Linked DNA regions of Homo sapiens: region 2 is linked to region 1. A link means that fine-mapping ties the variant in region 1 to the expression of a gene that starts in the linked region. Tissue or cell type: whole blood. Region 1 holds a variant in brackets; the other region holds the start of a gene. All regions are shown on one strand. Distances are from middle to middle.

What was found. PIP is the estimated chance that this variant, and not a neighbour inherited with it, causes the effect.
Region 2: it holds the start of RNPEP, and the variant in region 1 is fine-mapped to the expression of RNPEP in whole blood (INTERVAL, PIP above 0.99).

The regions. Positions count from the first base shown.
Region 1 is chr1:201,696,280-201,704,573 of GRCh38, forward strand. All of the region lies in intron 5 of NAV1 (neuron navigator 1), which reads left to right. All of the region lies in intron 2 of IPO9-AS1 (IPO9 antisense RNA 1), which reads right to left. Among named protein-coding and RNA genes, the nearest start is that of MIR5191, 19 kb to the right of the region's middle. RefSeq lists an enhancer at 7,083-7,655. The variant C/A (reference allele first, on the strand shown) is at 3,643.
Region 2 is chr1:201,978,832-201,985,162 of GRCh38, forward strand. It overlaps RNPEP (arginyl aminopeptidase), which reads left to right and starts at 3,817. Exons shown (of 11, transcript NM_020216.4): 1 at 3,817-4,282. The coding sequence starts at 3,836. It also overlaps the pseudogene RPL10P4. RefSeq lists an enhancer at 3,453-3,512 and a silencer at 3,723-4,402.

The sequences.
Region 1 (8,294 bases):
GCATTGGAATCGGGCGGAAGAGGAGGATTCTGAATGATCTGATTAGGCAGTCGAGAGCAGCCATGGATCTTGGCAAGCAGGCGACACAACCTGCCTGCCAGACGCTCTAGGAAGGTTCTTCCGAGGCCAGAAGCTTTACAGGTTTCAGAGCTGGGACAAAGCCCAGTGAGGAGAAAGGGCTCCCTCGAGGAAGCATTGGACAGGAGCAGTGACTGCCAGTGAGGCCTGGACTGGCTGGCAGCCCGATGTCTTGGAGGTGGAGAAATGCTTGGCCTGGCTGGTGGCCCATGACTCCCTGTCTTCTGGCAGTTCTGTATCTCATTCATTGCCTGCAGTGGAGGACAGGCTTCATTCTGTGAGCTGTGAGGAGCGTGATTCCAGCATGAGTCAGGAAGGGCCTCCTGGCGTCCGCCTCTGTTGTCTTTTTGGTCATGTATCATTCATTTTGGAAAAAGCACGGACTTCAGAGAAGACTGGGATTCAGATCCCTACCCTACAAGCCGTGTGACCTTAGGAAGTTAACTGACCTCTCTGAGCCAAACATCTATAAAATCGGAGTACTCATACTTACCTCAGCCGCTGCATTGCAAGGACAGAATACATATTCGTGTTTCGCACCATGCCTGGCGCACACTCGGGAAATACTGTCTTTTTTCCTTTTCCTTCCCTTCTTGCCTCAGAACATTGCCTGCTTTTCTCACCTTCTGATGCTCACTAAACAAAAAATTTTTTTAAATGCAAAAACTCTTCAGCACATCTTATTAAGTCTCACTGTAGGAATTCTCTGCCTTCTTAATTGGAAGTCTCCCTTAAAGCTAACCTAGCTCCTTCTTGTTTCAATTGATACCCAAGCCCTGGAGGGAGTTCCGGGGCCTTAGTCTAAGCCGAGTCCTTTTGGTGAGCAGTGGAACCATCCTGGAAATGGGGGGGCATGTTGGTGGCAGATGGGCCGAGTCACAGGGTCCCCAGTGGTGGGCAGTAGAGGGGTGAAGGGATCAGTGACACAGCAGGCTTTTCCAGAAATAAGAACCCTCCAGGGAGGCAGCCAGGCAGGGTGGATGTCAGCTTTTTGATGGAGGAGCAGATGCTGTGCAGGCTGAAGTGGGGCAGGGGAAGAGGGAGGTGTGAACGGCAGAGGGAGCATCGCCTTCTGGGCAGCCCTACCTTGCTCATACCTTGCCCCCAGCTTTCTCTCTCATAATCCTCCTCAAAGCTCAACCTTTTCCTCTTTATCCTCAAGCCTGGCTCTGAGATCAGCAGGCTGTGTCGTCTTGAGCAAGTCACTGCTATTCCAGTGCGCCTCAGTCTCCTCATCTGTGAAATGACCTCTGAGGCTTGTGCCAGCTCTGACTTTTGATGAGTTTTAACATTCAGCCTCTTCTGGGCTTGCAGCAGGGCTGTCTATACTGGTCCATACACAGGCTGGCCAGACCTTATGCCAGCAGCCCAGTCACCCTGCCATATCTGCTTTGTCTCCCATTCCATCCCATTCCCATCCCCAAACCACACCTCTTCTCCTACGGTGTCACTTTAAAACAATGTGTGGAGCACCCACTGTGTTTGAGGTGTCAGAATGGGATTTGGAATGAATATGCCAGGTCTCTGCCCTTCAGGAGGAGAAAGACATGAAATCTAAACAACAGCTCAGCTGTTATTTCATTTTATAGGTGAGAGAACTGAGGCCCAGACATTGAATACCTTGCCCAAGGTCACAGGGCATTGAATACCTTGCCCAAGGTCACAGTGGTAAAGCTGGGATTTGACAAAGACTCTCTAGCTCCGTGTCCTGTGGCCTCTCGTCGTCTGATGCCCAGAGCCAGTCCTTCCTCTCTTGTGGCTCAGCCTTTGCATAGGCTGTATCCTTCCTGAACCTGAGACTTGCCCTGTTGCCTGTGGTCAGATTCATTCTTTCCCTTCCTTTGGTTTCAGATCAGTGGTCACCTCTTCCAGGACCTCCCCTGTGACTCCTCTAACCCACCCACCTTATCACTTTTCTAGTCAGTCCCCAACAGAAGCTCTGGCCCCCATGCACGGATGATGCCTGACCACAGCTGCACATGCCAACCTCTTGGCTGCAAGCTCCCTGAGGGCAGCCCCTATTGTATGGGTGGACTCAGAACCCTCAAGACAGTGGCTAAGTGGAAGCCAGTGGCTGCTGGTCAGGGCACAGCCCGGCATGATCTGGTGGATAATCAGTGCTTCAGAGGCGGTGATGTTCACTCATTTGATGTGTCTCCCATTTGAAATGCAGCCACTTCCAAGGGAATCACGTGGGATTCACATCCTACATAGAAGACTGCAAAGGCCTGGTTTGGAGAACTCAGGAAAGGTCTGTAGCCAGGAGACCTGACCCCTTGAGTTCTGGTGCAGGCAGGAGTGTGATAGGCAGAACTACTCCCATCACAACAGTGGCATCTTCAGATAAGGTGCCTTTTGTCACTTGGCCACTGGTAGGTTCTGCGAAAGGAAGTGATGTCAGGGATTTAGGGACAGGCCTGGGGGTGGAGGGCTGCACAGGAGTGGGAGTGGGCAGGTGGGTGAAGTCAAATGACAAAAGCCTGCCCTTACCTTTGCTACTGGTTCTCTTCTGCCGCTAACTCAAATATATATCATCTGGCAAGTCTCTGTCTAACTCATTCTGGGCCTCAGTGGCAGGGCCCCAGAAACCTGAAGACGGGCCCGCTCTGTAAAATGAACTTGAAAGTGCGCCAAAGGCAAACACTTTATAGAAGAAGAGCCAGTGATGGCACAAGACAGGGATGCCCTCTCTCACCGCTCCTATTCAACATAGTGTTGGAAGTTCTGGCCAGGGCAATCAGGCAAGAGAAATAAATAAAGGGTATTCAATTAGGAAAAGAGGAAGTCAAATTGCCCCTGTTTGCAGATGACATGATTGTATATTTAGAAAACCCCATCATCTCAGCCCAAAATCTCCTTAAGCTGATAAGCAACTTCAGCAAAGTCTCAGGATACAAAATCAATGTGCAAAAATCACAAGCATTCCTATACACCAATAACAGACAAACAGAGAGCCAAATCATGAGTGAACTCCCATTCACAATTGCTTCAAAGAGAATAAAATACCTAGGAATCCAACTTACAAGGGATGTGAAGGACCTCTTCAAGGAGAACTACAAACCACTGCTCAATGAAATAAAAGAGGATACAAACAAATGGAAGAACATTCCATGCTCATGGATAGGAAGAATCAATATCCTGAAAATGGCCATACTGCCCAAGGTAATTTATAGATTCAATGCCATCCCCACCAAGCTACCAATGACTTTCTTCGCAGAATTGGAAAAAACTACTTTAAAGTTCATATAGAACCAAAAAAGAGCCCACATTGCCAAGACAATCCTAAGCCAAAAGAACAAAGCTGGAGGCATCATGCTACCTGACTTCAAACCATACTACAAGGCTACAGTAACCAAAACAGCATGGTGCTGGTACCAAAACAGAGATGTAGACCAATGGAACAGAACAGAGGCCTCAAAAATAACACCACACATCTACAACCACCTGATCTTTGACAAATGTGACAAAAACAAGAAATGGGGAAAGGATTCCCTGTGTAATAAATGATGCTGGGAAAACTGGCTAGCCATATGTAGAAAGCTGAAACTGGATCCCTTCCTTACA[C/A]CTTATACAAAAATTAATTCAAGATGGATTAAAGACTTACATGTTAGACCTAAAACCATAAAAACCCTAGAAGAAAACCTAGGCAATACCATTCAGGACATAGGCATGGGCAAGAACTTCATGACTAAAACACCAAAAGCAATGGCAACAAAAGCCAAAATAGACAAATGGGATCTAATTAAGCTAAAGAGCTTCTGCACAGCAAAAGAAACCACCATCAGAGTGAACAGGCAACCTACAGAAAGGGAGAAAATTTTTGCAATCTACCCATCTGACAAAGGGCTAATATCCAGAATCTACAAAGAATTTAAATTTACAAGAATAAACAAACAACCCCATCAAAAGTGGGCAAAGGATATGAACAGACACTTCTCGAAAGAAGACATTTATGCACCCAACAGACACATGAAAAAATGCTCATCATCACTGGGTCATCAGAGAAATGCAAATCAAAACCACAACGAGATACCATCTCACGGCAGTTAGAATGGCGATCATTAAAAAGTCAGGAAACAACAGGTGCTGGAGAGGATGTGGAGAAATAGGAACGCTTTTACACTGTTGGTGGGAGTGTAAACTAGTTCAGCCATTGTGGAAGATAGTGTGGCAATTCCAAGGATCTAGAACGAGAAATACCATTTGACCCAGCGATTCCATTACTAAGTATATACCCAAAGGATTATAAATCATGCTACTATAAAGACACATGCACACATATGTTTATTGTGGCACTATTCACAATAGCAAAGACTTGGAACCAACCCAAATGTCCATCAATGATAGACTGGATTAAGAAAATGTAGCACATTGCCGGGCGCAATGGCTCACGCCTGTAATCCCAGCACTTTGGGAGGCCGAGGCGGGTGGATCACGAGGTCAGGAGATCGAGACCATCCTGGCTAACATGGTGAAACCCCGTCTCTAATAAAAATACAAAAAATTAGCCAGGCGTGGTGGCAGGCGCCTGTAGTCCCAGCTACTCGGGAGGCTGAGGCAGGAGAATGATGTGAACCCGGGAGGCAGAGCTTGTAGTGAGCCGAGATCCTGCCACTGCACTCCAGCCTGGGGACAGAGTGAGACTCTGTCTCAAAAAAAAAAAAAAAAAAAAAAAGAAAGAAAAGAAAATGTGGCACTTGTACACCATGGAATACTATGCAGCCATAAAAAAGGATGAGTTCATGTCCTTTGCAGGGTCATGGATGAAGCTGGAAACCATCATTCTGAGCAAACTATCACAAGGACAGAAAACCAAACACTGCATGTTCTCACTCATAGGTGGGAATTGAACAATGAGAACACTTGGACACAGGGTGGGGAACATCACACATGGGGGCCTGTTGTGGGGGTGGGGAGCTGGGGGAGGGATAGCATTAGGAGAAATACCTAATGTAAATGACAAGTTAATGGGTGCAACAAACCAACATAGCACATGTATACCTATGTAACAAACCTGCACATTGTGCACATGTACCCTAGAACTTAAAGTATAATAAAAAAAATAAAAAAAGAAAAAGAAAAAGAGCCAGTAATATTAGCACAGACCAACTCCAGTGGCTCTAAGAGTGCTCCAAGGTGGTGGAAACTTCTATATCTGTGCTGCAGTAGCTACGAGCTGGTGTAATGATGTGGCTATTGAACACTTGAAATGTGGCTAGTGCAACCCAACAACTGAATTTGAAACTTCATTAATTTTAGTTAACTTAAATCTAAAAGATGCTCAATATCATTAGGCACTAGGGAAATGTAGATGACACCTACAGTGAGATACCACTTCATACCCACTGGATGGCTATCAAAAAGAGACAATGACAAGTGTCAGTGAAGATATGGAGAAATTGGAACTCTCATATACTGCTGATGGGAATGAGAAATGGAGCAGCCACTTTGGAAAACAGTCTGGCAGTTCCTCAAAATGTTAACTATAAAATTACCATGGGACCCAGTATTGTACTCATAGGCATACATTCAAAAGAAATGAAAACATGCATCCATATAAAGGCATGGACGTGAATTTCATAGCAGCATTATTCATACTAGGCCAAAAGTTGAGATGACCCAAATGCCTATGAAATGAATAGATAAACTAAATGTGGTATATCCATACAATGGAATATCATTCAGCCCTGAAGAGGAATGAAGTAGTGATGCTTGCTACAACATGGAGGAACCTTGAGAACGTTGTGCTAAGTGGAAGAAGCCAGATGCAAAAGGCCACATATTGCATGATTACATTTCTATGAAATGTCTAGAATAGGCAAACTCACAGAGACAGAAAGTAGATTGGTGGTTGCCAGGAGTTGGAGCAAGGGGAGAACAGGGAGTGACTGCTAATGGCCACAGGGCTTCTTATTGGAATGATAAAAATAGTCTGGATTAGATAGTGATGATGGTTGTACAACTGTGCAAATATACTAAAAACAATTGAACTGTACATTTTATTTGTTTTTTTTATTATTATTTTTGAGATGGAGTTTCACTCTTGTTGCCCAGGCTGGAGTGCAATGGTGCGATCTCAGCTCACTGCAACCCCTGCCTCCCAGGTTCAAGCGATTTTCCTGCCTCAGCCTCCCAAGTAGGTAGCTGGGGTTACAGGAGTGCACCACCATGCCAAGCTCATTTTGTATTTTTAGTAGAGATGGGGTTTCATCATGTTGGTCAGGCTGGTCTTGAATTCCTGACCTCAAGTGATCCACCAGCGTCGGCTCCCAAATGAACTGTACATTTTAAAAGGGTGAATTTTGGTATGTGAATTCTCTCTCTCTCTCTCTCTCTCTCTCTCTCTCTCTCTCTCTCTCTCTCTCTCTCTCTCTCCCCATTCTGACTAGTGGCGACAATATTGGACTATGCGCTCTAGAGTCAGACTATCTGGATTTGAATTCTGGCTTTGCCATTTGCTGTTATATGTCCTTGGACAGCTTACTCAACCTCCCCAGGCTTCCGTTTTTCTCAACTGTAAAATGGGGATAATAACTGGGCTCTCTCAAAGAGTTGTCCTGAAGATTAAATGGGCTAATATACATAAAGCTGCTAGAATAGTGCCTGGTACCCAGCCCTGTAGAAGAGTTAGCCAATACTAATCTTACTAGTGTCACAACCAGAAATCCCCCAGGGCCTCCTCCAATTGTCATCCACACCTGGACTCAGCCCCTCCCCACTCCCGTCCCCATTTGCCTGCAGATGGTTCTCTCTGCTGTGTAAACTGTTGCCATAACAACCACTCCCAGCTCCCAGCAGCAGTGACTTCTTTGGAGCAGGGTGTCACATGAAGGGTCTGGGCAGGATCACTAATGGAAAACATTTTCAGTAAACCTTGAGGTTCACTGGGCAGGAAAGTCAAGGCCTGTTGGGGAACAGAGGGCCACGTCTCCAGGCTGAGACAGGCAGGCCACCTTCTGCAGGAGGCCAGCCCTCTGAGCCCAGCCCGGAAGTCCAAGTCTTTAAATGAGAGAAGACAGAATATGTTCGAGAGTCTGCTATCTGATCCTATAACCTATCATTCTGATCCTATAATCTAACATTCACAAGGAAATGGGGCAGGGAGGTGTTTCTCCTGAGGTGGAGAAGTCAGGATAGCAAACTAGCACTCCTTCCAAACAGGGCTCGAGGCCAGGCACCCTCTCCTGGTCCCACAGTCCTCCGCATGGACCACCCTTGACCTTGGCAAGTCCTTTCCTAACGTGATCTTGTTGCTAAATATTAGTGGCTGTGGAGGTATTGCTTTCTCCTGGAACTTTAAGCTCGTCTCCCCGGCCCAAGTTTGCTGCCAAAGGCTGCACTTTTGCACACGGCTGAGCAGGGCTGAGCTGTCCTGTGACAGGCTGTGGCCTGAACTAGCCATCCGCGTGGGGCTGCCCTGTGGTCACTGCCTGCCCTCAGCTCGCTGCAGAGAGAGGCTGCCACTCCCCAGAAAGGGTCAGCCTGGGTGTGGTGGAGGGGGTGGGGTGACTGTCCTCCCAGCTCATCAGGCAGCTCCCAGCCTCAAGAACACTGCGGAGGAGCAGAGGTGAGGCCTCAGAGCACAGATCTGAACCCTGATCTATTTAATATTTCCCCAGGGGACTGGAGCAGAAAGGCCAGCTGGAGCCTCTTGGAAACTTTGGCCCTGAATCAGAGCTTGCCAAGTGGGGCTTGTGGGTCCCCAGAACCTCCCTGGTGCCGAAGGCTGGTTGGTTAATCCCAGAAGCCAGGCCCTGCTCCCTCTCCCCAAGAACCGGGTGGGCTCCCCGTCATAGATACTGCAAACTCAGGCTGTTCTCCCAGCCTGGCCACGAGGCCTAGGGTTGCGGGAAAGATGTCAGCCCTAGGAGTGCAGAGTCCTGGGAGGAAAGGAGCTGTGCTAAGCAGGAGACTGAGGGAGAGAGACCTGGGCGGTGGCTCCCGAGCCTGAGCGAGACGCTGTCCACCTCGCTGCGCTGCAGTCGCAGCAAGGCCACAGCCGGCTGAGGACCGGCAACGCCCCCTTGTGGCCATTCTCAGCAACAAGCCCCCAGAGAGCCTGGCGGGGGCTGGACTGGGGCTGGGTTCTCTTGCTGCAAGGCTGAGGTGGCTAGGTGACTTCTCTTATCCCAAGCCTGGAGATGAAGGAGGCGGCTTTTCCTGAGAACAGACTTGTGCCTGAAGAGTAGATTTGTTCTGAAGGCCAGGGACACTTT
Region 2 (6,331 bases), 280 kb after region 1:
CCAAGTTCAATGCCAATTAATTTGAAGACATGGTGGCTGAGAAGCGGCTCATCCCAGATGGGTCAAGTACATTCCCAATCATGGCCCTCTGGACAAGTGGCGGGTCCTGCACTCATGAGGGCTTCCACTGTGCTGCCCCCTCTTAATACTCACCAATAAATTCTACTTTCTGTCCACCTAAAAAAAAAAATGCTTTAACTTCAGTTACCCCTCTCTCTTATGTACTTTTAGTCTGTTATTTTAGTTTTATCCTGATTCCCTCACATAAACATTATTAGTATATTATTAGTGTTGTTTTATACAGTTGTTTAAATTTATCTACTTTTTTTGCTCACTGTTCCTTTTTGCATCTCATTCTTTCCTTCAGTGATTCCTTTCCTTCTTGAAATAATTCCTGGCCTGGCACAGTGGCTCACGCCTGTAATCCCAGCACTTTGGGAGGCCGAGGCAGGCGGATCACCTGAGGTCAGGAATTCGAGACCAGCCTGGCCAACATGGTGAAACCCCGTCTCTACTTAAAATACAAAAATTAGCCAGGCATGGTGGCAGGCGCCTGTAATCCCAGCTACTCAGGAGGCTGGGGCAGGAGAATTGCTTGAACCCGGGAGGCGGGGGTTGCAGTGAGCTGAGATCGCACCATTGCACTCCAGCCTGGGGGACAAGAGCGAGACTTCATCTCAAAAAAAAAAAAAAAAAGAATTCCTTTAGAATTTCTTCGTTAGGAGTCTATGGATGGTAAATACTCTCAATTTTTATCTAAAAATCTGTTTTCCCTTACTTTTTAACAGTAGTTCATTTTTAATTTTATTTATTTTTATAAAGACAGGGTCTCCCTGTGTTGCCCAGGCTGGTCTGGAACTCCTTGGCTAAAGAGATCTTCCTGCCTCAGCCTCCTAAAGTGCTGGGATTATAGGCTTGAGCCACTGCACATGACCAAATAATAGTTTAGTTGGGTATACAATTCCAATTTGACAGTTGGCTTTTTTTTCTCAGTATTTTGAAGATAATGTCTCCAGCTTGTATGTTGCTAATGAGAGGTCTGCCCTTGGTCCAATTTCTTATTTTGAGACGGAGTTTTGCTCTTGTTGCCGAAGCTGGAGTGCAATGGCGTGATCTCGGCTCACCACAACCTCCGCCTCCCAGGTTCAAGTGATTCTCCTGCCTCAGCTTCCGGAGTACCTGGGATTAAAGGCATGCGCCACCATGCCTGGCTAATTTTGTATTTTCAGTAGAGACAGGGTTTCTCCATGTTGGTCAGGCTGGTCTCGAACTCCCAACCTCAGGTGATCCGCCCGCCTTGGCCTCCCAAAGTGCTGGGATTATAGGTGTGAGCCAACATACCTGGCACCTTGGTCCAATTTCTAATTGCCATTCTTTTGTAGATAATCTGTCTCTTTTCTTCCACTGCTGTAAGATCTTTATGTCTTGGTTTTCTTCAATTTAACTAAAACATGTCTATAGGTAGCTTTATTTTTATTTTTGCTAATAATTTATTGTAACTTTTTACTGTTTTTTTTTTTTTTTTTTGAGACAGGGTCTCACTCTGTCATGCAGGCTGGAGTGCAGTGGCGCAATGTTGGCTCACTCCAACCTCTGCCTCCTAGGCTCAAGCAATTCTCCTGCCTCAGCCTCCCGAGTAGCTGAGATTACAGGTGTGTGCCACTACTGCCCGGCTAATTTTTTGTATTTTTAGTAGAGATGGTGTTTCATAATGTTGGCCAGGCTGATCTTGAACTCCTGAGTTCAAATGATTCACCAGCCTCAGCCTCCCAAAGTGCTGGGATTACAGGCATAAGCCACTGCACTCGGCCCTGTAACTTTTAAATCTATAGAATCAGGAATGGAAAATTTGTGGCCATTATTTTGAAATGTCCAACATATGTTGCATTCTAAGCATTCACAAATAAATAATAAATAATGAAAATGAACTGGGGGAGAGGTGGGCTGTGCCCACAGTGTCCCCTTTCTACAATCCTGAATTCTCTGAATTCCTGAATCTCTCCACTGTAAGTTATTACAGGCCATCTACAGGCCAGTTCTGAGGCAAACTAGACAGTGTGGGAGCCATGCAGGGAGGCGGAAGTGGAAATGAGGTTCCTGGTATTCCCAGGAAGAAGTAAGGCTATAAGGGGAAATAATATAATTCCTAAAATCTTTTTTTTTTTTTTTTTTGAGACAGGGTCTTTCTCTGTTGCCCCAGCTGGAGTGCAGTGGTATGATCATGGTTCACTGCAGCCTTGACCTCCTGGGCCCAAGCAATACCCCTACCTCATCCTCTGAGTAGCCAGGACCACAGGTGTGCATCACCACACCCAGCTAATTTTTTAAAATGTTTTTGTAGAGAGGGGGTCTCCCTCTGTTGCGTAGCCTCATCTTGAACTCCTGGGCTCAAGCGATCCTCCTGCCTCAGCTTCCCAAAGTGTTGGGATTACAGGCGTGAGCCACCACACCCAGCCTAAAATCTTTTACCCTTTAGCTAAGGATGACATCCTCTTCCTCTGTCAATATTTAACTAGAAGGATCAGGCTAGGCATCTCTTCGTTGTGCTCCCCAGCATCCTTTTCTTCCCGTATCAAGCGCAGCACGTGGAAGTGTCGTGACCTGTTTTCTTGTGCGTCTGCTAAAATGTGAGTTAGGCTATGAACACCATAGGAAGAGGAATTGTGCCGGACTTATTCAAACTGTACCCCAGGCACTTAGCTTAACAACTGGTGTCTAGCAGATACTCAGCAAAAGTGCATTGCATCGAAGACTGAATAATTTCAAGATAGGAGTATTCAACGTCTAATATGTACCAAGCGCTGTTCTCAATGCTACAGAAAAGCAGGTTTCTAAGGTTTCTGGAGTTAAACAAAAAACCCTGACATTGAACTTACATGGAATATTAAAGTCATTATCTACCATAAGCATTATTTCATGAAATAAAATAATTTCAACTCTACAAAACTAGGAAGCACAGAACGGAATACTATTTCCCTTAATGAAAAACTCCCTACATTGTTCTTTTTAAAAATCTCATTTCCTAGCTGAACGGTAAAAACATCATCATTGATTAGCTCCTATTCATAGAAGGCCCATTGCAACCCACTGGTACAGAAGAGAAACAAAGTATTCAGCGGAGAATACCCTAGCTCAATAAGCGGTACAATACAGTAAGGGAAATAGAAGTGACATGCGATGGACAGCCAGGCCTTAAATTGCGCGGTGCTGATTCCTGTCCCTTAACCCAACAATAGAAAGATAGGCGTGCCTGGAGTTGCTGGGGGACGAGGCTCGATCCAGTGTGAATTCCGTGAAGTTGTGCAGGGTTTCACTGTTTGCTGAGTGTGTTAGACAGGTTACCTGGTAGAGTTCTCACATTACTTCGTGAGATACACAGATATTATGACTCTATTATACTGGTGCAGAAAAAGGCTCGGGAAGATTCATGTTTCTTGTGCGACTTGCCCAAGGTGACACACAGTTCTAACAACTGGCCTATCGCAGGGTGTGAGATCTGGAACTCAGACCTTCCCAGCCAGGGCTCAGTCCACGCCACTGCCTAGATGAGGCAGCAGGAAGGGTCAGCAGAGAAGGGTGCCCCACCGGGACGACTGGAACACCTCAGTAGGATATGGGTGGGCAAACGTGGGCCACACGATCCCACCGGCCTCTTTTGTCCTAAGTCCCGAGGCACGGGTGCAGCTAGAAGAGTGGGCGGTAAAGCGCAGGGAGGGGATGCGGTCGGGAGCAGATTTCGGGGGCGGGGCCCGCGCGGCGGGGGCGGGCCCGCGGCGCTCGGGGCGGGGCTCCCCTCGGGTTCGCGGCCCGGCCGGTGAGCAACGGCTCTGCGGCCATGGCGAGCGGCGAGCATTCCCCCGGCAGCGGCGCGGCCCGGCGGCCGCTGCACTCCGCGCAGGCTGTGGACGTGGCCTCGGCCTCCAACTTCCGGGCCTTTGAGCTGCTGCACTTGCACCTGGACCTGCGGGCTGAGTTCGGGCCTCCAGGGCCCGGCGCAGGGAGCCGGGGGCTGAGCGGCACCGCGGTCCTGGACCTGCGCTGCCTGGAGCCCGAGGGCGCCGCCGAGCTGCGGCTGGACTCGCACCCGTGCCTGGAGGTGACGGCGGCGGCGCTGCGGCGGGAGCGGCCCGGCTCGGAGGAGCCGCCTGCGGAGCCCGTGAGCTTCTACACGCAGCCCTTCTCGCACTATGGCCAGGCCCTGTGCGTGTCCTTCCCGCAGCCCTGCCGCGCCGCCGAGCGCCTCCAGGTGCTGCTCACCTACCGCGTCGGGGAGGGACCCGGGGTGAGTGCGCCCCAGACTGCGCCCGCCGCTGCCTGCCTGCCCTTCCGGCCCCCAGCCGCCCTGCACCCTCACCTACCCCACCCGGGAGGAGGGACAGGGAGGACCCTTCCAGAGCGTCCCTAGAGGGGCCTACTCCCCGCGCGCCGCCTCTAGGCCTCCTCCCCTTGCTTCCTCTTTTCCTCCCGGGCTGCCTGGTTTCCTTCTGGACTTCCTCCAGCCACTGGGCGGTGCATCCTTCACCCTTTCCGTCCTTCCGCGTCTCCTCCCTGGCCCTGGAGGCTTGTCCAGATTGCGCCGCATTCCCGCTCATCGCACACTGCCGTTTCTAACATTTTCCGTGGCTTTCTAGATGACCTGTTGTTCATGCACTTCACTTAGTGCCCTCTTGGACTTTTGGGCCGAGGTACCTGATTATCAGCCACCTTATCTCTGCTTTATGGTGGCTCTAGAATTAGCCAGATGTTGATCTAGCTCTTTGTTCTGTGTTGCCTTCTAGTTCCACGGTTAAAGCTCTTATCTTTGTTTTTGTTTCCTCCTGTGAAGTCCTGGATTTGATTAACGAAAGAATTTGAGTAAAAGTGAGAACTGGAATTAGGGTGCTATAAGCATTATAATAATTTGGCCTTCTCACTGTTGGTTAACTCTTTAATTTTTTTTCGGGACGGGGCAAATATTGGAAATAAGAGGATGGAGTTATGTGGCTTATGTCTGTAAGAGTCAGAAAATCCTTCCTGGAGAGTCCTTAGGCTGTGGCTGCCAGTTATCTCTCAGGTAGAGTTGGTTGCAAGTTTCATAGTAAACTGCTTGCTTACAGTTTAATCTTTTATTTATTTATTTGAGGCAGAGTCTCACTCTCGTCCAGGCTGGAGTGCAGTGGCAAGATCTCGGCTCACTGCAACCTCTGCGTCGTGGGTTCGAGCGATTCTCGTACCTCACCCTCCCTAGTAGCTGGGACTACAGGCGTGCGCCACCACACCCGGCTAATTTTTGTATTGTTTAGTAGAGACAAAATTTCACCATTTTGGTCAGGCTGGTCTCGAACTCCTGACCTCGTGATCCGCCTGCCTCGGCGGCCTCCCAAAGTGCTGGGATTACAGGCGTGAGCCACTGCGCCCGGCCCACAGCTTGGTTTTATACATTAGGGAGACATGATACATCAGTCAGTATATGTAAGAAGTACATTGGTTGGGTCTGAAAAGGTGGGACAACTTGCAGCAAAGGCAGGAAGACTTGAAGCGGCTTCCGGATCACAGATAGGTGATACACAAATGGTTACATTCTTTTGAGTTTCTGATGAGCCTTTCCAAAGGAAGCAAATCAGATATGCATCCATCTCAGTGAGCAGAGTAGTGGCTTTGAATAGAATGGGAGGCAGGTGTGCCCTAAGCGGTTCCCAGGTTGAGTTTTCTTTAGTGATTTTGGGGGCCCAAGAGATTTTCCTTTCACAGCCTGATAACACCACTGCACTCCAGCCTGAGCAACAGAGTGCGACCCTGTTTTAACAACAACAACAAAAAAGCAAAGATGATGAGTAAGCAATTTTGGTGGAGGGGGGATGATGGCTAATATTTAATAAGATGAGCCAGGCACTAGTCTAAGTGCTTGACATAGGTTAAATGAGTTGTCTTTCCATAAGTGGTTAATATGGTGCGTGGTACATGGTAAGTAAGCTGTGTTAGCTCTTACTGCTAACTTTTGTATTTCTTTCTTTTTTTTTTTTTTTTTTTTTTTTTTTTTTTTTTTTGAGAAGGGATCAAAAAGCTCCCTACATTGTTCTTTTTAAAAATCTCGTTTCCAGGCTGGGTGTGGTGGCTCACATCTGTAATCCCAGCACTTTGGGAGGCCAGGGCTGGCAGATCACCTGAGGTCAGGAGTTTGAGACCAGCCTGGCCAACATGGTGAAACCCTACCTCCACTAAAAATACAAAAATTAGCTGGTTGTGGTGGCTCACACCTGTAAACCCAGCTACCTGGGAGCCTGAGGCAGGAGGATCGCTTGAATCTGGGACACAGAGGTTGCAGTGAGCTGAGATCATGCCATTGCATTCC